Regions from separate parts of the Homo sapiens genome. Here all the other regions are linked to region 1. The links come from fine-mapping of genetic effects on gene expression. A gene starts in region 1. Each other region holds a variant in brackets. All regions are shown on one strand. Distances are from middle to middle. Region 1 holds the start of QSOX2 (quiescin sulfhydryl oxidase 2). Region 2 overlaps LHX3 (LIM homeobox 3). Region 3 overlaps QSOX2 (quiescin sulfhydryl oxidase 2).

The links. PIP is the estimated chance that this variant, and not a neighbour inherited with it, causes the effect. A credible set is the group of variants that fine-mapping cannot tell apart.
Region 2: its variant is the best candidate, but not a certain one, in a credible set for the expression of QSOX2 in whole blood (INTERVAL, PIP 0.66).
Region 3: its variant is the best candidate, but not a certain one, in a credible set for the expression of QSOX2 in naive CD8 T cells (Schmiedel 2018, PIP 0.60).

Annotation. Positions count from the first base shown.
Region 1 is chr9:136,242,211-136,250,235 of GRCh38, reverse strand. QSOX2 (quiescin sulfhydryl oxidase 2) reads left to right here and starts at 4,424. Exons shown (of 12, transcript NM_181701.4): 1 at 4,424-4,760. The coding sequence starts at 4,433. CCDC187 (coiled-coil domain containing 187) reads left to right here. Exons shown (of 26, transcript NM_001378188.1): 26 at 1-263. RefSeq lists an enhancer at 1,535-2,389 and silencers at 4,187-4,456, 4,487-4,896.
Region 2 is chr9:136,190,947-136,197,889 of GRCh38, reverse strand. LHX3 (LIM homeobox 3) reads left to right here. Exons shown (of 6, transcript NM_178138.6): 6 at 147-1,640. The coding sequence ends at 565. Among named protein-coding and RNA genes, the nearest start is that of LHX3, 11 kb to the left of the region's middle. RefSeq lists enhancers at 1-195, 5,675-6,620, 6,621-6,943. The variant A/G (reference allele first, on the strand shown) is at 2,918.
Region 3 is chr9:136,214,077-136,222,101 of GRCh38, reverse strand. It overlaps QSOX2 (quiescin sulfhydryl oxidase 2), which reads left to right. Exons shown (of 12, transcript NM_181701.4): 6 at 161-306; 7 at 2,938-3,072; 8 at 3,294-3,423; 9 at 5,380-5,502; 10 at 6,798-6,948. Among named protein-coding and RNA genes, the nearest start is that of LHX3, 13 kb to the right of the region's middle. RefSeq lists an enhancer at 5,592-6,095. The variant G/C (reference allele first, on the strand shown) is at 4,422.

The DNA.
Region 1 (8,025 bases):
GGCTTCCAAGGACAGCGGCCCTGGAGGGGGCCGGAGCCGTCAGGTTACTCTGAGCACCGGAGAAAAAGCCGCTTCAGCAGAGGTGTAAACGCATTTAATCTCCCAACAGGACATATACAGAGCGGAGGGCTTTGGCATTCAGATATATTGACCGGGCAAGATGGTAATCCAAGGTTCCTCCCCTTCAAGGTCTCCTGCTGTATTTGCCTGGGCTCTGATCTGTCGTCACCGCTTGGGCCAATAAATCTTGATACCAGCCTCCAGAGAAGTCATTATCTTTCATAGAAAATGATTATTTCTCAGTTAAACCCTACATTTAATTTTCCCGTGATCTGTCTCTTTCAGCTTCCCTGCTTAACGGTTCCCTCCTGCATAAAATGCCCATGAACGTGTCCGCAGTGCTCCGAGTCCCAAATCATCAGACAAACTTTACGAGTCCCTTTGATTCCCTGCCCTGCGTGGCCATCACGGCCACCCTCATAAAACACGCATGAAGGCCGGGGGCCCTTTATGAAAGGTGGCGGCCGCACACTTTCCTGGGAAGCAAAGCCTCCAGGCACCCAGGGCGCTGGGAGAGCTCACTCACTGCCCAGGCGGAGCAGGGTCCCTGCGGGTCATTTTCTCTGTCCCCAGGGTCGAGCTTGGCCCGTTCATGCCCAGCAAAGCCAGGCTCACAAGCCGTCCTTTTCCCAGCTCCCCAGGCAGCTTTGGGGTCCTGGAAGAGTGTTGGCAGGTCCCACAGCCATCCCATGGTGCCCTGTCCCCGCATGGCAGCATCAGAGCTGGGAGCGGAGGATGGGATCACACACACCCCCTGGCCCTGGCCCTGCCCCGGGGCTCCCAGCCGCCCTTCTCCTGCCCGCCACTCACCATGTCCATCAGGCTGTAGCCGATACAGCACCAACCACACTGGTGCTGGGAGCCAGCTCGGGCTCTGAGGCTGCCTGGGCCCTGCTCCACCTCTCCCTAGGGGTCTGGCAGGAGCCCCTGCCCCCAGACGTGCCTCCATGTCCACAGTCCCTGGAGGGTGGCCACCCACCTCCTCATGGTGTCCTAGTGAGGACATGAAGAATTGTTCCCTCAGGCACTGTCCCGGGCACGTCGCCAGTGCTCAGGGGCTGGCACAGGTGTGCAGAATTTTTCCTCAGAAGTTTTCCCAAAATGGGTGGTGGTCGTTAAGCAGCTGAGCCCTCCATGCCAAACTCCTGCTAAAGGGGGAGACGTGGACAGCAGGGCAAGTCCTGGAGCCGGGGCCATTGAAATCCATTGGGCCTCATCTCTGCTCTCCCCATGTGGAAAGGGAGGCGGCTCAGAGCTGGGTTCTGTCTTTGTCTCCAATGCAAGCATCAGAGTGGGCCCTCCTGGGTTCTGGGAGGCACGTGGGCCTGAGGCCCTCCTCTCTGTCACATACATGCCATGTGCCCTTCACCTCACACAGTAGTCAGCCCTCTGAGCCTCAGTTTCTCCCTCTGTAAAACAGGAATATCAATACCTGTTCCACGATGGGTAGGCCTCTGCAAACCTGCCCCAAAGATGGAGGAGGCTGAGAGGCAGAAGAAAGAGGCTGACAAGTCCAGTTTCTCAGGAAGAAACATTTAGTAGGGACTTACAAATGGAAGCCACATCTGTGTCTCTGGAGGCACCGACAGACGGGATCCCGCCACCACCCCCAGGCCCAGGGCTTATCTGCCATAGGGGAGGCTGGTTTAGAAGGAACGTGCAGAAACCTGAAGCAGACAGCATCAAGGCTTTGTGCCCTAAGGGTGGGATTTACGGCAAGTACCTGCTCTACACAGGGAACAACAGATCAACTGGAAATCTTGGAGGCCTTCCCGGAATCAGGCTCATCAGGATCCAACACAGCAGATTAGGTCCAAGATGCTGCTGCCTCAGCCTGCACAGTGCCTTATCTCATCATGTCTGAGATGTGATCTCCCCGCATTTTGATCTCTTTGAAGCCAGAGCTGTCTCTGTCAGGGCATCTGAAAATGGCCACTGGCCGCGTGTTTTCTCGCTCCGCGGCACGCACGCTAACCGCGCCTGCAGTCACCTGGCCTTTGCCACAGCGACGTGCGATGCCTCTCCTGCAGGTGGGGTGGGGGGCAGATTTCACGCAGGCTTTGGGCAGGATCTGGCTCAGCACAGACAGCTCTTACGTAGACTCCGAGATTCAATCCTAACCCCTTCCCCTCCCCCGCCCTGCCTTAGATGGGAGAAACTCTGGTTGTTTTGGGGTGTGGCCTCTAAGTGCTGGGCTAAGCTTGGTCCCAGGGGTGGCTCCGTTTCACCGAGCAGGTTTGGGGTGAGGTGTTGCCCCGATGTTCCGAATGTGCCCCTCCAGTTGGGCTCATGACGTCCTCTGTCTCAGCCAGATCAGCCTCCTTTCCTCCACTCCTTGTTCCCCTGCCACCTCGCTGCTGCTCCTTCTGGAGGCCTGGGGCTCAGTGTGTGGCCCTCCCCTCTGTCCCACAGCCTCCCCGGGGGACCTCAAGCAGCCTCAAGCGCTGAGCTCCAGACTCGACTCCCACTTCTAAACCCTGACCTGACACCTCCCTTAGAGGTTGAAAAGGCTGCTCAGATGTAACAGGTCCAAAGCAAACTCATGGCATCCTCCCCAGCATAGCTCTCCCATCTCGCCGCTGCAGGATTTAGTCTCAGCCGTAAGCAACCCCATTCCTCTGGTTGCTTTGGCCCAAACTCTGCGAATGTGACACCCTCTGCCTCCACCCAGACTCAGCCGACCCCTCCACCAGCACTGCCTCTCACCCCTCCCCGGAGTCCCTCCAGCTTGTGGAAGGAGGCGGCGGCCCCTCCCAGGTCCCCTGCTTCCCCTCCTGCCCCTCCTACTCTGCAACTAGAAGGGCAGAGCTGCATCCTTGCACCGATCCTTCCGTGGCCACCCCCCCATTCAGCATCAAAGTCTGAGTCTGCGGCCCAGGTTGTGAGGCCCCCTGGGTCTCGCTCGGGCTCTCAGCTTTTCTTCCCTCCCACGCTTCCCCCAGCTTGCTCCGCTCCCACCAGGTCCGGCTCCTTGCTGTTCCTCCAGCGTGCTCAGCACCCTTCTGCCCCAGGGCCTTTGCATGTGTGCCTCCTCCCTCACCTCCTTCTCCATTCGGGTCACCTTCTCAAAGACCTCCCCACCCTCCTCTGTACGGCAGCCCTGCTGGCACCTGCTTCCGTGTCCGGCTTCATTGCTTTTCATAGCACGCGGTGGCTGCTTTACGCGTTGGTTTGTTTGGGGTCTGCCCAAATGCAGGCCAGGGACACTGGGGGCTCGGTTTTGTTCTTGATTTGTCTCCAGGGCTTGGCACAGAGCAGAAGCCAGGAAACGTGGGTGATGGAAGGAAACATGAACAGGGAGACGCAGGACGTGAGGAAAAGGGAGCAGACGCCTTGGCCAGGGGCCCTCTGGGGAGAATCCTCTCATCTGGGGTTAACCATTGTTAGCAGCAAAACCTTTTAAACAAAATCTTACACAGAACCCCACAATACAGTTATCTATTTATTTTGAGACAAGGTCTCGCTCTGTCATCCAGGCTGGAGTGCAGTGGCAGAGTCACGGCTCACTGCAGCCTCAAGCTCCCAGGCTCAAGCCATCCTCCACCTTAGCCCCTCAAGTAGCTGGGACTACAGGTGTGCACCACCATGCCCGGCTTTTTTCTTTTTTTTAAGAGATGGGCTCTCGCTATGTTGCCCAGGCTCGCCCACTCCCTTGTTTTGTTTTGGTCACACAGTTCAGAGAAAATCTTGACATGTGTAAAAATTAGGAATAGGAACAAAAAAAAAAATCAGGTATCCTGTTCAATGAAGCAAAAAAGTCATATGATTTCATTTCCAAACCGTGAAGCTGCATTCGACTGGAACATCCTAAAAGGTAGCACACAACACATCTGACTTTGAGTGGATGTTTTGCTGCATTTTCTAAGCGTTCCAATATCATATTAAAAAGTCGAGGCTGGCTTGCAGACCCTCTGAAGCCCCAGGTGGGGTTGCCAAGTAAAAGAACCCCGGAATAGTTTTTTACGTCTAAGAATGTCTTGTTAAATTTGTATTTCAGGCATGGCACAGACCTAGGCTGAAAAACCGACTCACTGTTTGTCTGAAATTCACGTTGAACCTGGCGTCGTGCACTTCCATTTGCTAAATGTGGCCACCTGGCCCTGTTCAGGGAAGGGGTTTGGGGAACGCGCGGCGGGGTGGGGCGGGGCCTGGGCGGAGCCTGCCGCGCCTGGGCGGGGAGATGGCGTCATCAGACTCTTGGGGGCGGGGCTGCCACGCATGGGCGGGGGCGGGGGCGGGGAGAGAGGGCGGGGTCAGACGTGAGGGGGCGGGGCGGAACAGAACTGGGCGCGCGGGGGCGGGGCCGGGCGCGCCGGCGCACGTGACGGTGGTTGCCAGGGTGAAAGTTCAGCGCGCCGGCGGCACTTCCAACATGGCGGCGGCCGGGGCGGCGGTGGCGCGCAGCCCGGGAATCGGAGCGGGACCTGCGCTGAGAGCCCGGCGCTCGCCCCCGCCGCGGGCCGCACGGCTGCCGCGGCTGCTAGTGCTGCTAGCGGCGGCGGCGGTGGGGCCGGGCGCGGGCGGTGCGGCGCGGCTGTACCGCGCGGGCGAGGACGCCGTGTGGGTGCTGGACAGCGGCAGCGTGCGCGGGGCCACCGCCAACAGCTCGGCCGCGTGGCTCGTGCAGTTCTACTCGTCGTGGTGTGGCCACTGCATCGGCTACGCGCCCACTTGGCGGGCCCTGGCTGGGGATGTGCGAGGTGAGGCGCGCCCCCGCGCGGGGACCCCCCGACCCCCGGGACCGCGGCCTTCCGGGACCCCTTGCGACCGCCCCAGAAGGCGGGTCCCGGGGCCCCTCCCCCGTATTTCTTTCCTTACCGCAGAGCCAGTCCCTGCCCCACAGAGGCACCCGACTCGGACCAACCCTGGCCTTTCCAGGGGCGGGAGACTAAGCCAGCTGCTCCCCATGTCTCTCCCAGTTAATCCCCGTTAGATCCTGACGAGTTGGGCTGTCTGAAGTCAAAATGAAACCATTCTCCCGCAGCCCTCACCGCACGCTTGGGGATAGGGAAGCCCTCCCGTATCCCAGCTCTCAAAATACCTATGTTTTGAGCCCCAAGAACTTCATTGACCTTCCAGGCCTCCTACCCTACCTGTTTCCTAGCGTCCACACACCCCATCCCCAGTGCCCAGAATTCCTGTTCTCTGAGGATCCCTCATTCCTATTCCACACTCGTAGCCACCCCATTCCCTTTGAACCTTCATCATTAACTTTCTGGTTCGGATCGCTGGCCATATAGTGGGTGCTCAAAGTGAACCCACAACTTAGAAGTCCAAATACTCTGGAGACTTCTCTATAATACCCCAAAACAACCTATAAAGCAATTTTTTTAACTCTACAAAGAATTTCATTGGTGGGCTCCTTGATCACAGATGCACAGCCTTTGAGAAATCTTTCACCAAACTGCTGGTAGTGTTCCGCACTTTATTGTTTAGTGCTTTCATCTGGTCGCACGTTGTTAACCAGTCACGAAGTTACTCGCCTGCTCTACAGGTTAGAGTTGGCGTGGGAGGGGGCATTCACAACACCCTTCCCTTAAAATGGTATTTAAATCACTGAAGTAGGAGGTCCTCCCGACCCAGTGAGGTTTGGCAGGACTTCCTGTGTTGTGCTAACCTCAAATTACATGTTTCAGTGGGCAAGATCTGTAACAAATTGCTACTCTTTCTTCCTGCACCTTTGTTTTTATGCCTTACACCCAATCCTGCTGTATTTTTCTCATCGCAAACAGATTTGTAAAGAAACTTTTTTTCAAGTCTAAGTAGGGCTTTTGTATGTTACTGTAAATGGTTATCTTTAAAATGCATTCTCCTCTTAGAGAGCTGGGGCCTTTTGATTCTAATGGATTCCTCCTCTTTGATCTCATGTTTTCTTATGTCCCTGTTGACCTGACTCAGAACTGAGGTCAGAGACTGGAAGAGATGGACAGAAAAACTGTTCAGTGGGGTTTTTAGACACTGCTTTTAGGAAAACAAACAAGTAATTCAATCACGTAGGGAACCCTTCAGTTCTTGTGTGTTATTCAGTGGCAGAAACAGATATGTTCATTAAAATGCAGGTGGCCCTGGCAGGACTTGGTCACTTTTTTTGTGGGTTTTGGTTTTGATTTTTTTTTTTCAGTTGAGTCGCTGAAGTCTAAAGATCGTACCAGATTCAAATATTGCAAATTCTGTAACCGAAGCAGCACATAGGCAGCCTTGAGAACTGTCCCTGGAGCTCAGAAGGAAGGCCCCTCCTGAGAGCCACACAGTAACGTCCATACCCAGTGGTGTGATGAACTCAACTCAGTAAGCCTCCTTTAGTGAGGCTGACTGTCTTCCCAGTCACGACAGGAAGAACAGGCTTGTGCCTGAGACTGAGACTGGAGGAGGATATGGCTGAAAGTGAAAGACAGCGGTGACCTGACCAGGCAGCAGGGAGAGGGCTTCAGGGAGCCCAGGCAGAGGGTCCTGTTGGCTAAAAAGCCAAACTATAAAATACTGAAAGAGGTTTGTTCTGAGCCAATAAGTGTAGTGGCCATGGCCAGGGGAACAGTGTCAAGAGGTCCTAAGAAAGTGTGCTCTAGGCAGTCACGTTAATTTGATTTTATACATTTTAGGGAGACAGAAGTTATAGGCAGAGAGACATAAATCAGTACATGTAAGGTATAGGAAGGGGTAGGTTTACAGATCATAGGTGGATTCTGACTGGCAATTGATTGAAAGAGTTAAGCTTTGTCTAAAGACTTGAAGTCAGCAAAGAGAAATGCTTGAGTTAAGCTAAAGGGGCTGTGGAGGCCAAGGTTAAGTAGATGAAGCCTCACAGGCAGCAGCCTTGGGGAGAATAGAGGGTAAATGTCTCTTTTCAGACCTGAATGCTGTCAGACTCGTTAAATGTCTCCTAGATCCAGGAAAGACCTAGAAAGGGAGGGAGATTCTCTACAGATGCAAATTTCCCTCACAAAAGACAGCTTTGCAGGACCATTTCAAATATGTCAGGGAAATAAATGTATTTGGGGGTGAAATATTTTGATTTCCTGCAGGGTGTGCTATTTGTCATGTGGTGCTGTACCCGAGTCAGGCTGGAGTTTGGTGTCGTTGCTGCTGAGGCTGTGCTGTCTGTCTGTGATCTCTGTTTCATCACGCTGGTCAGCTCTGCCTAAACTCCAAAGGGAGGTGATGTAACCAGGCGTGTCTGACCTCCCTTGCCGTCAGGGCCTGGAATTTCTTTCCTCAGGTTGCCCTGGGGTCTCCTTGGCCAAGAGGGGGTTCAATTCAGTCAGTTAGGGGACTCAGGATTTTATTTTTGGTTTACAGTCCTGAGAGCCAAGCTGTGCCCATGAGGCTTGTGGGAGGTAGAGTCCGGGTAGAAAGGGATGAAAGGCCCTTGGCACTGAGGAGTCCCCGGAGCTGTTCTAAGGCTGGGACTCTCAAAGTAGGGCCACTTAGGGCCTTGTTAGAAATGCCTGCTTCTCCACAGCCCCAGCCCAGACCTGCCAGCTCAGAACTGTCTGCTTGGCGCCTGGCTCCCTGTCTGTCATCCCTGCGTGGAGCTGTCCCACAGGGATAGGGCGCCCATTGCCCGTGGCAGTGCAGGGGTCTGGCTGCATGCAGGCATTCCCGTTGTCAACATTCTCATGTTTTCTTATGTCCCTGTTGACCTGACTCAGATCAGTCACCTGTGGCCCTGATCAATCACCTGTGACTTAGGTCATCCTGCTGATCCCCTGGGGGCACACAGGCCATGGCTTGGGCCCCCACTTCTACCTAGAGTGTCCAGCCGCCTTCTCCCACTGGTCCCCCTGGCCAGCGCCCGCCACGCCCTGCGTTCTTCATGCCTGTGGCTGCTGGAGAGGATGGTTAGGTGTGGGCTCTGCTTCCCAGGAGCCTCCAGCTGGAAGGAGCAGGACAGGCCAGGGCACCTTTGTTTTCCTCAGAAATTTGGATTGAACTTTAGCTCTTGACTGGCTTTTTCAAGGCTGGGAA
Region 2 (6,943 bases), 52 kb after region 1:
CAGTAGAAGGGGCCTGTTATGACCTGTCATGTGGTGTGGGGCAGCCACTCTTTCTCCGACCCAGGGGTGCCTCCGCCTGCAGGATGGGACTCTGAGGGGCCGCAGGTGGAGGGCAGGCGCTGACTGAGCCTCTGCTTCTGTTGCAGATGAGCCTTCCTTGGCGGAAATGGGCCCGGCCAATGGCCTCTACGGGAGCTTGGGGGAACCCACCCAGGCCTTGGGCCGGCCCTCGGGAGCCCTGGGCAACTTCTCCCTGGAGCATGGAGGCCTGGCAGGCCCAGAGCAGTACCGAGAGCTGCGTCCCGGCAGCCCCTACGGTGTCCCCCCATCCCCCGCCGCCCCGCAGAGCCTCCCTGGCCCCCAGCCCCTCCTCTCCAGCCTGGTGTACCCAGACACCAGCTTGGGCCTTGTGCCCTCGGGAGCCCCCGGCGGGCCCCCACCCATGAGGGTGCTGGCAGGGAACGGACCCAGTTCTGACCTATCCACGGGGAGCAGCGGGGGTTACCCCGACTTCCCTGCCAGCCCCGCCTCCTGGCTGGATGAGGTAGACCACGCTCAGTTCTGACCCAGGCCCGGCTCCACCCTGCACCTCACACGAGGGAGCTGCCCCTGGGTGGGCGGCTCGGGGCTGCTGGGGTTTCCGAGGAAGTGGGGCCAGGGCGTCAAGGGAGGGCTGGTGCCTTCGGAGCCTCCCACTGCCGACCGCACAGCTCCCTCTCTGGGGGCTGAGGGACCCACCTGGCCCCTCCTCTGACACAGGGCTGGCCCGCCAGGTGGCCTCCCAGCAAGCCAGCCTTTTTTGTAAGCAAATTTCTCCCCTTTATTGACCAATTAACTGAGCACTTGCTGCTATTTCTAGACATGAAATGTCACCTTGCTGAGGCCCAGCCCAGCCCAGCATAGCCCGAGGGCTGGAAAAACGCTTTCATCTCTAAAACTGAGAAATCATCATAATTGTGCTTTCACTTCCCAGGCTCCATGTGTCTTGGAGCCGTCACCCCGAGGCTCCCTCTTTAGGTCGGAGATTGGCCTTGCCTGTCGAGGCAAGAGGCTGCAGAGGCGGGGACACACCTGTGTCCTCCGGGAGAGGCCCCCTCCTCTCCCCAGACCACAGGGGGCCTCTCTGCCTCCAGCCCCACCTTCCCCGGGAGAAGCTTTCCCCAATCCCCAGGTCTCTAGATCATTCTGTTCTCGAGTATCCTGTGGAGGAGGCAAAAATGCCTGGCGCCCCTTCTCTCCAAGCTCAATTCTCTAAGCCCCTCAGGGTCTCCTCCTCACCCCACCCCAGGCCCTTGGTGTCCAGGCTGCACCCACAGATGTCTGTTGCCAAACAGCCTGCCCTCCCTGCCGGAGCCGGCTCTGCCAGCCCCAGATTGGGAAGTCTCCCCGCTGGAGAAGGGTGGGGCTCCTCTGAGCCTGCCCTGCCTCCTCCATCAGATCCTTTGGGAAGAAGTTTCTGGGAGATGCCCGCAGCTGTGCGTGCCCCAGACACAAAGGCTGGCCTGTGTGTAAGTCAAAGTCACTCCCGCAAACCTGAATCTCGAGCTACCTATTGGTTCTGTGAATGTTCTGTGTCTTTTATTTATTCTCGGGTGATCAGCTCTTTCCAAGACTTCAATAAATTTGTCAGTTACAGTCAATGGAAGGCCCGCGTTTTTTTGAGGCTGCGGGGGTTGGGGAGTGTTGGGTGTGGGGAACATTCTGTGAATGTTGAGAGGCAGCCCTGGAGGGGCCCTGAGTCCCCCTAGTTCGTTGCTTGGGCTGGCACCTAGTATGAATTTGGGCTCTCTTTATCCCTGGATCTTGGCCATGCTCATGAGCACTGGAAGGAGGTGGGGGGAACAGCCCATCCCTTCCTGATGGAGGGGAGGGGTTGCGGTCTCCACACCCTGTCCCTGGGAGAGGCAGGGGTTGGGATGTCCAGAGAGCATGATGGGGGTGGGAGGTGGGCCGTGTGTGCCATTCACAGCTTGCAGCTGGCACCAACCCCAGGACATAGGCTGGTAGGGTGACCAGGCTCATGGTCATGGAAGTCTCTCCAGCTTGGATTCCAATCCTGGCTCTTCTAACTTGCTGTGTGACCCTGGGCTGGGGGCTGGAACCCTCTGAGCCCTGCTTCCCCGTCCCCACCCCCCAACCCCCCCAACCCCGCCGCCGCCGTAAAGAGAAGACAGTGATGACAGTCCCCTCAGAGGGCAGAAAGAAGTTGTATGCGCCCCACCCCCACCCCCAGGTAAGTGCTCCTATAGGGGCAGTGGTAGAAGCAGGCAGGGTTGGCCCTTCCACCTCGGCCTTCCCTCCTGCAGGAAGGAGGGCTGGGCCTCCTCCCTGAGGGTCTCTTCCTCTGAGGGGGTCTCCCTGGAGCAGAGTGGGGGCTGGAGGGAGGAGGCCCCTTGGAGCCTGGGCTCCCTATTTCTCAGTGGACGGGGAGGGAAGGTGGAGGAGTCCCCATGCCTTTCATGGGGACCTTTGCACTGGCCTCAGTTCCCCCAGTAAGGGTGCGGAGGCCCCTCCAGAATGTGGCCAAGGGAAGCTGCTCTGAGCTGCAGACTTCCAAGTCTCTCCAGGACCAGCCATCTTTTGGGGGGAACTGGTTGGGACCAGTTGTGTGGTTTTTTTTTAAATGGAGTTTTGCTCTTGTTGCCCAGGCTGGAGTGCAATGGCGTGATCTCCGCTCACCACAACCTCCGCCTCCTGGGTTCAAGCGATTCTCTTGCCTCAGCCTCCCAAGTAGCTGGGATTACAGGCGCGCAGCACCATTCCCAGTTTTGTATTTTTAGTAGAGACAAGGTTTCACCATGTTGGCCAGGCTAGCCTCGAACTCCTGACCTCAGGTGATCCACCCGCCTTGGCCTCCAAAAGTGCTGGGATTACAGGTGTGAGCCACCGCACCTGGCCAAGGGAACAGTTGTCTTTT[A/G]AGGGACGTCCTTTTCATCGTTTCGGGATGTGTGTCAGGCACATCCTCTTCTGAGTCCCACAGCGGCCTCTCCTCTCAATCTCACAGAAGAGAAAGCTAAGGCCCAGGAAAGGGGAGGGAAGGGAGGAGAGGGGAGGGAAGATGGAGAAGGGGAGGGGAGGGAAGAGTGGGGAGGGAGGAGAGAGGAGGGAAGAAGGGGAAGGGGAGGGAAGAGGGGGAAGAGGGGAGGGCAGCTTGGGAGAAAAGAGCGGGAGACTGTCCTCAGCCATGCAGGCTTGGGCAACCCTGGGGACTGGGAGTGATGGGGCTGGGGCAAAGGACCTCTGAGGAACATCACCGGGAGAAGGTCTGATGTCCAGTCTGCCCTGACCCTGACCTCTGCTGACCTCTAGGCGCCCACAGACCCCAGGTCTGCAGGGCTAAACCGGGCAGGGGCTCTGGCAGGCTCCTGGACCTGTTCATTCCATGAACATTTCTAGAATTGGCTGTGCTCCGCCCAGCGGCCTCTGCCTGTGGGGAGACTGAGGCCCAGAGGAGGAAAGGACCTGTCCTGGCCTGGGTCCCCCCACCCCCCAACCCCCGCTGTGGGGAAGGAGGGGTGCTGACCAGGCGGTCAACGGGGTTTCTGTCGGGTCCTCCCAAGCCCCACCCGCCCTCCCTCCCTCCCTGTGGCGCATGGCCTTCGACCCCCAGGCTCTGGCAGCCACGCTGTGTCTAAGGAGGCACCGAGCACCCCTGGGAAGCGCAGAGACGCGCGGATCACCAGGGCGGTCCCGGGAGGGGAGAAGGGCCCCGACGGCCACTGGGAATGGCGGCAACACTGGAGCCGAGCGTGGAAGCAGATGGGGTTGGACGCGAGGATGGCGCGTGGCGACGGCGACCAGTGCGGGCAAAGGCGCGCCGGCGGGAAAGTGCGAGGTTCGGGGCCGGCCTGCGGAGTCGGTGTCCCCAGGGCAGAGACTCCAGCCAGCGGCCCCGCGGCCAGGGACGGGCGCTGGAGGGACGACCCCGAACTCTCCGGGGGCAACGGGCAGCCCGCGGGGAAAGCGGCTCCGGGCCCAGGTCGAAGGCGGAATTTAGGGAGGGGGCGCGGCCGCCGGGGTGCAGCGCGGGCTGGCGGGGGGCAGCCCCGAGGAGGGGGCGCAAATCCCCCAGCCGCGCCCCCACCCCGCCCCGGCCTCCGGCCCCTCCCCCAGGCCGCCCGGGACCTTTTAGGCGCTGACAGGTTAATAAAGTGCCGACTGTTCCCGCGGGGACCCCGCCCGCGCCCGCTCCAGCTGGCGGCGCGTCGATAATCCCGGAGCCCGTGGCCGCCCCCGACACCGCCCTGGCCGCCGCGGGGAGGGGAGCGGGGCCTGCGGAGGCGGCCTCGGCGATGGGAGACCCGCGGTGCCCTGGAGAGCGCGTCTGCGTGACCTCGCCGGCCTCCGGTTCCCGATCGGAGCGCAGCGCGCGCCGCTCTGGCCGTACCCGGTTCCGCCCCGCGCGGGCCTGGGGGGAGCCCTGTGACCTCCCCGCGCCCCAGGGACAGAAACGCGGGCTCCGACCTCCTCCGGCTCCTGCTCCGTACCCGCGAGGGCGAACCCAGAATCAGACTTCGGGCCGCGGCCCCCACCCGGACCCCCGCCAGGCCGGGGGACGCCCAGCCAGAGCTGCAGACCTCGGGCGGAGAGAGACCTTGGGCCGCGGGGCTGTCTGCGGGCTCTGGGCTGCAGCGAGGTGAGGGGAAGGAGAAGGCGGACCCCTCATCCTCCCTGGGTCCGAGCCCCCTTCCTTCCAGGGTGGAGACGCCTTCTCGCGGACGGTGGAAGCTTTAGCCGCGCGCCTGCGGGTTGTCAGCCCCGAATTCGGGGTTCCTGGCGCCCAGTCTCCCCGCGGAGCGGGAGGTGCGGGGGCAGGTCGAAGGCTGATGTCCCCCCCCCCCCGCGGCTGGGGTCTCCCGGTCTCGGACCCTGGTGGGGCGGCGGGTGAGGCAGGGCCGGGGCCGCAGTGGGAGAGGGGTCGTCCGGGCGCGGGGAGACCCCGAGATGGGACCTGCCCGGCTCTGCTGGCGTCGCTGGCAGAGGGAACCCGGAGGGCGAGGGCTCTGCGCAGCCCGGGGTGCAGGGAGCCGGGGCCGGGGTCATACTCCCCGGCACGCGTTCTGTCTTTTTTTTTTTTTCCCGCTCGTTGGGGTCCCGACCCGAGAGGCAGCGGGGTCGCTGACCAGAGAGGACCGACCCTTGCCCAGGACCCCATCCCCCTTGCAGCGGGGGCGGGGCTGGGGGTGGCACAGGGCTCTGGGTGGCGTCCCCTTGGCGGGACGGGGGAGGAGCTTGCTAACTTTGAATCTGGCAACTGTATTACATCATCCAACTTAAATATCTGAATAATAAAGTAATTTCAACCAGCACATTAAAAGGGATTATTTTCTCTTAAATATGAAATTCATACGAAGAGCTGCTTTTAGCCCGAAGGACCTTCCCGAATCAGGGGATGCCTTAGAAGTCACAGAGGCACCCCTCCCTCTCCCTAAGAGCAGGGACACCCCCTGCCCTCCCCTCCTCTCCCTCCTCACCATCTGCCGGCAGGTCCAGCCCCCCTCCCCAAGGGTGGACAGGAGCGGGTGGGGGCCCAAATCCCCGGGCTTGCCTGGCCGAGTAGCAGCCCTGATAAATCAGAGGTTTTTCAGGGGAATCAGCCTGCAGCGCTAAATCCCAGGGGCTGTAATGATCAATTCTTTAAGCCCATAATTGTTTAAATTACTCTGAGCAACATAAAACATTAATTTTAAGAAATTTAATAGAAAAAAGCTCTTTAAATCCACAACGAGATAAATGACACCCAGTATGGCGACCTTTTTCCATACCTTGGTGACATTGAATAATCTGAAAGTTATTTACATTTTCATCCTTCGTGGAAAATGTTGACAAGCTTTTGGCCGTGGGCGAGGTGCGTGGTGGCTCCGGAGCGCCCCCTCCCCCCTAATTAATGGGGGAGCAGTGACTTTATAAGCAGAATTTTCATCAGTCTGCCTGTGCGACCTCGGGTGACGGCTCCCACCCTCCTGGAGCTGATGCAACTGCCGGTCATTTTTTACCATAAAAATATTCTGTCCTGGCCAGCGGAGCCCCCTCTTGGCATTCAAAAGTAGGTGTGAGACGAAGACGCAGCTGTCACATTCAGGGTGTAGGATGGAGCCCAAGGCCAAACCTAGGAGAAGACTCCTGATTCTGCAGCCCCCGGGCAGAGTCTGCCCTGCACGTGCGCGTGAGAGGCTGCAGTGCTGTGGGGGGCGGCCCTGCCTGGGAGCCACAGGCCCCAGATGCCGCACAGCCCTCCAAACCCAATTCCACACACTTCCCCCTACACCATCCTGGGGTGCCATCTCAGGAGGGCTGGGGTCCCCCAGGTCACATCGTCGGGGCTGGGTGGGTCCAGGAGCCGGGGAGCCACGGTGGGATGCCCTGGGCAGAAAAGGCCCCAGAGCACTGGCTCGGGAGAACTGGCTCCTCATCCTTCTTATCCATGCTACTCACTGGCCACACTGTGTGACCGTGGACAAGCCGCTCAGCCTCTCTGAGTCTGTGAAGAGCAAGTACAATCTCCTTCCCAGGGTTACCATGGGGCTTGAGGAGGCAAAGCCTGGGATGGGTGGGTAAAGGGCACACCCACTCCGACCTGCACACCCACATCTGCTCATCCACACGCTCATCGCTCTCCAAGAGGTCACACACCCACTGCACGGTACACACACAAACATCCCCCACGCTCTCCCAGAGCGTAAGTGCGGGAGGTGGTGGTTGGATTGGAACTAGACCGTGGCGATGGTTGCACAGGGCACACTTTAAAGTGGTTCATTTTACGTGATGTGAACTTTACCTCAATTAAAATTAAAATTACTCCCTCCCAGGCCGCCCTGGAGGATGAGCCTGCCTCCCAGTGGGAGAGGCAGACGGGAAGTCTTGTGGTTAGCCTGGTGCGGGCCACGTCCCACCTGGCTCCAAAAGCTGCCATCTCTGGGAGCCGCTCCCCACCTCACCCCTC
Region 3 (8,025 bases), 28 kb after region 1:
GTGCAATGAGAGTGAAGATTTGAGTGAGGGTCTTGCCTGCAGGGGGACAGACTTCATGCCCTTTTGTGAAAGGTTCCCTGCAAGGCCATGTGTCTGCACGTCGTGTTTTCTGAGAAACTGCCAGCCCCTGTGGAAGTGTCATTGTGTTCTCATCCCCCAGGTGATCTTAGACCTGATCCCGTATGAAAGCATCGTGGTGACCCGAGCACTGGACGGGGACAAAGCATTTCTGGAGAAACTTGGTGTTTCTTCAGTCCCTTCGTGTTACCTGATCTACCCAAATGGGTCGCATGGATTGATTAACGTGTGAGTGCCCGGGTGGGGTCTGGGAACTCCGTGCCGCTCGGAGTTACCGGACAGAGGCTCCGAGTAGACAGTGCAAGTCTGGTGTGAGATCGGGGGAGCCCTGGCCCCTCCGCCTCGCTTCCCTGGGCAGATTTGGGCCCTGGCTCTCAGCCCGTGGGTATTGCTGATCTGTGCTGTGTTTTCGTGGATTTCTGTTTTCTCACTGCTGTGTCCCCGCACCTAGGAGGAGCCTGGCGTGGTGACTTACCAAGAGTCGCAGAGGAAACCGTGGCTAAACCAGCACATGCATGAGGGCTGCTGGGCCGGGGCTTTGGGAGCAGCCGATGCTCCTAAAACCCTGCTCTGGGTGGACTCTTGGGATGCAGTTTGGGTCTGTGTCTGGGGCTGGCAGACAAGCCCACGTGCCCACCTCTGCAGAATGAGAAGTAGGGGTGGGCACCAGGCCCTGCCCCTCACGTTCTGCTCTTTCTCTAAGAACTGCAGAACCTTGGCAAGCCCTTTGCCTCTGCGTGGGGTGCCCGTGTGCCCCTCATGAGGATAAGCCCTTCGCCCCTGCGTGGGGTGCCTGTGTGCCCCTCATGAGGATAAGCCCTTTGCCCCTGCGTGGGGTGCCCGTGTGCCCCTCATGAGGATAAGCCCTTCGCCCCTGCGTGGAGTGCCTGTGTGCCCCTCATGAGGATAAGCCCTTTGCCTCTGTGTGGAGTGCCTGTGTGCCCCTCATGAGGATAAGCCCTTTGCCTCTGCGTGGAGTGCCTGTGTGCCCCTCGGATAAGCCCAATGAAAAAGTAAACAACTTGAATCAGGTTAGAAAAAGAACAGTGAGAAAAATGAGGCTGGGCACAGGTGAATCATTTGAGTCTAGGAGTTCCAGACCAGCCTGGGCAACATAGTAAGACCCCATCTATACTAAAAAAAAGACTAGCCAGGTCTGGTGGTGTGCCACTGTAGTCCCAGCTACTCAGGAGGCTGAGGTGGGAGGATCACTTGAGCCTCAAAGGTCAAGGCTGCAATGAGCTGAGATCCTGTCACCGCACTCCAGCCTGGGCGACAGAGTCAGACTCCATCTCAAAAAAAAAAGAAAGAAAATGAAAAATGGTTGAGAAAGTTAAGTAACGTCCTGAGGCTGGAGGGGCCCCGCTCCTCCTCACCTTGGGGAGAAGGACAGCGTGAGGAGAAGGACAGCGTGAGGCTAGCCTGCCCTACACTGGGTGGCCCCTTCCCCTGGCCTGAAGTTGCAGCACCTGCAGGCTTCCAGCATGTGCTGGTTTAGCCACGGTTGACTCTGCGGCTCTTGGTGACTCACCACGCCGGGCTCCGAGGTGCAGGGACACAGCAGTGAGAAGATAGGACGTGTTTCCTGTCTCTTGGGGCTTCCAGTTCAGCCTCCTCAAAGATCGACTGGGGCATAGAGGGCGCCTTACAGAAGCCCAGAACACCGCAGTTTCTTAAGTATTTTTCTTTCCTTTTGAAAAAGAGGCCAGGCTCACACCTGTAATCCCAGCACTTTCAGAGGCTGAGATGAGAGGATTACTTGAGCCCAGGAGTCTGAGACCAGCCCAGGTTGATAGTGAGACTCCAGCCTATGACAAATAAAACATTAGCCGGGCGTGGTGGAGTATGTCTGTGGCTACATCTACTCAAGGGGCTGAGGTGGGAGGATCATTTGAGCCCAGGAGGTTGAGGCTGCAGTGAGCTGAAATTGCACCACTGCACTCCAGCCTGGGCAACAGAGAAAGATCCTGTCTCAAAAATAGATAAATGAGTGAAAATACAAAAGATAAAGCTGGAATTCAGGGTAACCACAGAGGCCATTGAGCTTGTTGGGAGATGCTCTGAGTGCTTGGGGGCCTGGCTCTGCCAACGAGGTGGCCCATTCCAGGCCTGGGGCACAGCACTGCACTTGGCAGAGCGGCCTGAACCACTCCCAGATGTTTGTTTAGTGTTAAAAGTATCATCTAGACAACTTCTTAGTGTCAAATAATGTTAATATTTTTATAGATATTTTAATGTTTTTGCAAATAGCACTGCTACATTCTGTCTTTGGAAACAAGCTCCACGTCACACTGAAGTGCTCAATAATGGCATTGAGGGTGTCCTCAGAAGGCAGCTCCACCCTGTCCACACAGCGTGGGCACACAGGGGGCTCAGCTCCACCCTGTCCACACAGGGTGGGCACGCAGGGAGCTCAGGGGCCTGACATCAGGGAGGGGCTGACGTCCACCCCAGGCCCCGACTTCCAGATGCCTCACTCAGGGCTGGCAGATTGTGGGCGCGTCGGTGAAGGCTCTTAGGCGTGTTGGAAATCGCAGTCAGAATAAAGCTCATCTTGGCAGATGCTCAACCCAGCTTTACAAAACGCCTTAAGGTCCCCACAAACATAAATGAGTCATAGTACTTATTACAACTGGAACTGGTTGTAAATCTGTGGATTTGGTGTGTCTCCTCTTATCCCCCAGGTGGAAGCGCAGCCGGAGCCCAGGCGGGGTGTCAGCTGTTCCCACTGACTCCCATGCCCCAATAAATGCCCAAAGGATGAAAGGGGTGGCCCAGAGCTGTCCTGAATGCCACGGCTCCTACTTTAGGATTTTATAAAGGAGGCTCTTCTCACCTTTGCCCTCCCCTCTCTCACAGCGTGAAGCCTCTGCGGGCCTTCTTTTCGTCTTATTTGAAGTCATTGCCGGATGTGAGGAAAAAATCGCTTCCCTTGCCTGAAAAGCCACACAAAGAAGAAAATTCAGAAATCGTGGTTTGGAGAGAATTTGACAAGCAAGTGTTCCTCTTGAACTGAAGCCCCCGGAGACAGTGCGTGTAGACCGAAGGCTGCGTGCTTGCAGGGCGGGTTTACTCAGAAACCCACCCCAGCCAGTGAGGGCCGCTCAGGAGCCCTCCCAGGGGCCCTGGGAGTCCGTGGGGAGGAGCCAGGACAGGGAGACTTGCTGTGGAGGGAAAGGTTGGGCATTCCCTGACGCTGCCATATCCCGTCCTAGGTCGAAGCTGTACACGGTGGACCTGGAGTCAGGGCTACACTACCTCCTGCGGGTGGAGCTGGCAGCCCACAAGTCCCTGGCCGGAGCAGAGCTGAAGACGCTCAAGGACTTTGTGACTGTCTTGGCCAAGGTTTGGGACGGTGCTGGTCTGGGCTGCATGTGGGAATTTGGCTCTGCACAGAGTGGGCCCTGGGGGGCGTCGGACACTGCGGGGGCTCCGCCAGCTCCGCTGAGGTGCTCTCCACCTTGCTTTGTCGCCCAGGCCCACGCCCCAACTCATTCCACCCATTTCCCGAGTGCCTCCTGCGTCCACTGCTGTTCCCAGCACTGGGGCTGGGGCGGTGGGTGTAGAGAGGGGCGGGGGTGTGAGCCGAGCACCTGCTGGAAAAGCCCAGCTCTGGCTGCCTGGAGAGTAGATGGAGGAGGGAGCGGAGGCCCACACACACCTCAGCTGGCTCTCAGAGGAGCGCTGCACGGGGGCTGGGGGGAGAGAGAGAGGGAGAGGCAAGGGCTGTGCAGATCCAGGTGGGGTGTGCATCTGCCCCACCAGCCAGGTTCAGGGAGGGGTCCTGGGAGCTTCACGCTCAGCACCATCACCAGCACAGATGTGGTGTCTGAGACCACTGAGGGGGTCGCCAGGAGCGGGCAGAGATGCCACCCAACAGAGCTCAGGCCTGGCCGTGCCCAGGGTCAGGCTGAAGAGGACCAGCCAGGGAGGTGGCCAGGTGTAACTCCATGAGCTCGGTTGCTTGTTACTGTCTAAATGACAAGAAGGCTTAGGCTTAAAATATTTATCTTGCCAAAAATAAGATGCATGATAGAATAATTTATAGTGAGCACTTTGGATAGAGTTTACTTACAAAGTGATTTGTGAAAAGTACAGGAAATCTTGAAGGACTGGAGGTGCCTCAGATGAATGCATGAACATTGCCCAGGCAGCTTTTTCCCCCACGGTGCCATCCAGAGTTCAGAAATCTCTAGCTGGCCTCATTTCCTTTAAGAAAGTGTCCTGCTAATCTGTCCATCATATTAGTGGAGGACAGTGTGGCTCTTAGTGGTGGTGGCCGCCGGCCAGCTAATTCGCTGGAGTCGCACAGCTGTCGCTAGGCAGACCTGCTCTCCTCTCCC[G/C]GCTTCTCCGTCTTCCCCTTAGTCTAGTTAGGCTTGGAGCTTTTACACTTGTGCTCTGGGCAACTCCTGAGGCCAGGGTATTAATAAGTTATTCTTAATATTTTTCTGAAGTTTACTTGGATGTCTAAAATAAATTTGATTCTGGTAAATTAATCATGGTACTTTTTAACCTGCACGGGAGAAAATATATTGGACTGAGCTGAAGATGCCGGCGTTTCTGGTCTGGCATCGCCACCTGTGAGCTTCAGCTCGGGTTTGAGGAACTCTTTTGGTGGCTGGTGTTTCTGGTCTGGCATTGCCACCCGTGAGATTTCAGCTCGGGTTTTCGGAGCTCTTTCGGCAGCCTATGTTTTGCACAGTTTGTGGTGCAGCAGCTGATCAGAGTTTCTCCTAAAAAGACAGAGCCCTGGGATCTTCTCAGCCAGACGCCTCCCCAAGCTGTGTTGATGTCGGCCAGCCTCACGGCCCACACAAGCCCATAGGCAGTTAGCCCCGGCTGCCGGCGCATGTGCACTGCCGCGCGCCCTTCATACAGTCAGTGACGGCAGAGGGGAAGCCCAGCGGGCGGGCAGGCGGGGTCAGCACAGCTCCTCGTGAGGAAGGCAGAATAAATCAGCAAGCCCCCGCCAGCTCCATGATGAGTCACACACCGTGACCTTGCCTGTCACCTGGCCGGAGCGAGGCCGTGGGCGCAGGTGGGTGAGCTGCAGGCACGGGCTGGAGAAAGGCATGGCCGTGGGCACAGGCTGTCCTGGGGAGAGGCGCAGGCTAGATGCCCACCCCATGGCCCCTTGGGTTTCCTGCCTCCCATCAGAGAAACCCGAGTTATGAGAGGCCCCATCCTAGGTTCAGCCCCTCTGCGGATGGAGTGCTTCTCTTTGGAGGTGCGGTGCCCCCCGCGGTGGGGGCGGGCCCGGGTTTGGGTCTGTAGCTCTCAGGTGGCTCCTTCCTCATGCAGCTGTTCCCTGGACGGCCGCCAGTCAAGAAGCTGTTGGAGATGCTGCAGGAGTGGCTGGCCAGCCTTCCCCTGGACAGGATCCCCTACAACGCCGTGCTTGACCTGGTCAACAACAAGATGCGGGTGAGCCCCAGAACCCTCGCCAGCCACGCTGCACCCTCCTTCCCTCGCCTTCCTTCCCTTGCCCTTAGCTGGTGCATCTCCCTGCTCGGGGCCCGGGCTCCGCTGTGAGGAAGGGGAGCAGTGACTTACTGTCTCCACGACAGCATCATGGCCATGGCCTCCTGTCTGCCTTGGCAGCGTCATGCTGGGACTTCAGTTTAAGGACAGCTCACCAAAAGTGCACTGTGACCACCTGTCCTTTGGACAAAATGGGGTTTTCTCAAGCAACGTAGTAGTTGGGCTTTTTAAATTTTTAGTAAGCCAATCTGACGAAAACTGATGTATTCAGTAAGTGTGGCAGCCTTTCCAGAGCTTTCCCCAAGACCAGGTGCCAGCAGGTGCCAGTCTTTGCTCAGGGGACCAGCACCCCAAGAGGTCCTGGCACTCCGTCCTGCCATTCCCTCCTTAGTCCAGATCAGCAGCTTCTCTGTGGCCCCCAGAGTGTTTACTCGCGGGCAGTAAACCCAGCGTGCTGCTTGTCCGACGCCCGCGTGGTCAGTGCACACAGCAGATCTTCTGGGAATCCTGTAAGGTGCACTTGTCGTGCCGTGATTTTGCCAGCTTTGTCATTTGCTGGCTGCAGCTGAGAAGCAGACGGTGCCGGGCTTCTTGCCTGAGTCTGTCTTCCACCTTGACTCTACTCCGAGCTCGAGGTCATGGGAGCACTCTCACGTGACTGCGACGTGTGACATCTCCCTCGAGAGCACGTCCTGGGCTCAGGAGTCCTTAGGGAGGAAAAGGTTGATGAGACACGAAACCAAACCCAGCGGAATCTGCCTGGGGCTCTCAGCCCTCCCAGTCCAGCAGTCACCCACTCTGATGGCCACCCTATTGCTTTTTCAAAGTGAACACACCTTGTTTGTTCTGGCCAAGAATTATTTGACAGTTGAGCTTTTTTCTGTTGTTAGTTGCCTTTTCTCTTAATACTGTCCTTACAACTAATTCTAATTTAAAAGAAAAGGTGGATACATTTTATGCTTAATATTACTGGTTTATCAAGATACAGAAGAACTGTCTCTTCAGAGATTGGCTTGAGAGCTCCTTTAGTAAAGGAGACCATTTCCTCTCTTTTGTTTTATTGAATTTAAATTTGCATATGGTAGGAGGCACAGATCTTATGTGTACAGTTGATACAGCTTCAGTAAACCACACCCCCATTATCCACCCCCCCCAGTCAAGAAGGCAGCTGTCGACTGTTTTTAATTTCAACAATTATCTTTTATTCTTTGGGGTTTTTTTGTTTGTTTGTTTTTCAGATTTCTGGAATATTCCTTACTAATCACATAAAGTGGGTTGGATGTCAAGGAAGCCGATCTGAGTTGAGGGGTTACCCGTGTTCTCTCTGGAAACTGTTCCACACTTTGACTGTTGAAGCCTCGACCCACCCAGATGCACTGGTTGGCACAGGTAAGCTGTGCCCATACAGGCCAGAGGGGCCGATGGTCTGCCTAACAAGTTAACCCAGCCGGTGTGTGCAAAGGCATGTACTGCTGTATGGGAGGCAGCATGTCGCCAGGCCACTGAGGCAGGGGAATGGCACTTCAGACTCCTCTCACACGGTCAGCTCACCCAGGGCTGTGGCTGCGGGGGCACGAGTTCCCCTTGTCAGAACTCGCAAGGATGTGCATGGCTAACGTGCAGGAAATAAACCATAAAGAAGAAAGAGTGCTGGCTGGGAGTTTCCCTGCAGTGTAAACTCCCTGTTTTTTGCTTTAAAAAGACAGAATAAGTGAAATCTGTTTGGAGAGGTGTTCTCATTATCAGCTGTTGTATAACAAATCACCCCAAAATTTAGCAGCCAGAACCACGGGAACCACGCACGGTTATGAGCTCATGGTTTCTGAGGGCCGGGCATGGCCTCATCTGGGTCCTCTTCTTCAGGATTGGTCAGGCTGCAGTCGGAGTGTCAGCTGGGCCTGGGGGGTCACCCAAGGCCCACCTGGGGAGAGTGGCTTCCCAGCACCCTCATGGGGCAGAGAGCAGGGCCTGCCTCCTTGCACGTGGCTTGCCTAAGGCCCTGAGCTCCATGCTGGCTGTTGACTGCAGGCCACGCTCAGGGCCTCTCCATCGGGCGGCTCACATCATGGCAGCAAGCCTCATCAGCAAGCCAGTGAGAGGGTGCCTATCCGAGGATGATATTCCATCACCTCTGTCAGATTCTGCTTACTAGTCAGTCCCCAGGCCCAGGCCACTCGCAAGGGGAGGACATTACAGGAGGCGTGAGTATAGGTGGTGTGATCTGTGGGGACCGTCGCAGAGGCTGCCCACCACAAGGGGTTAAAACCTATAAAACTTCGAAGTTGGATTTAATAATTTTCAATTACTAGGAAATAGATAAAAACAAATTTTCTGTCCTTCACAGAACACTAAAGTATGTATTGGATTTTTTATCCCCCCTGAATTTTGTTGTGTGTGTGCTTCCCAGTTGAAGCAGTAATTCAGGTTCATTAATGTTTACTTCAAAGCCGAAGTGGAGTCTTGACT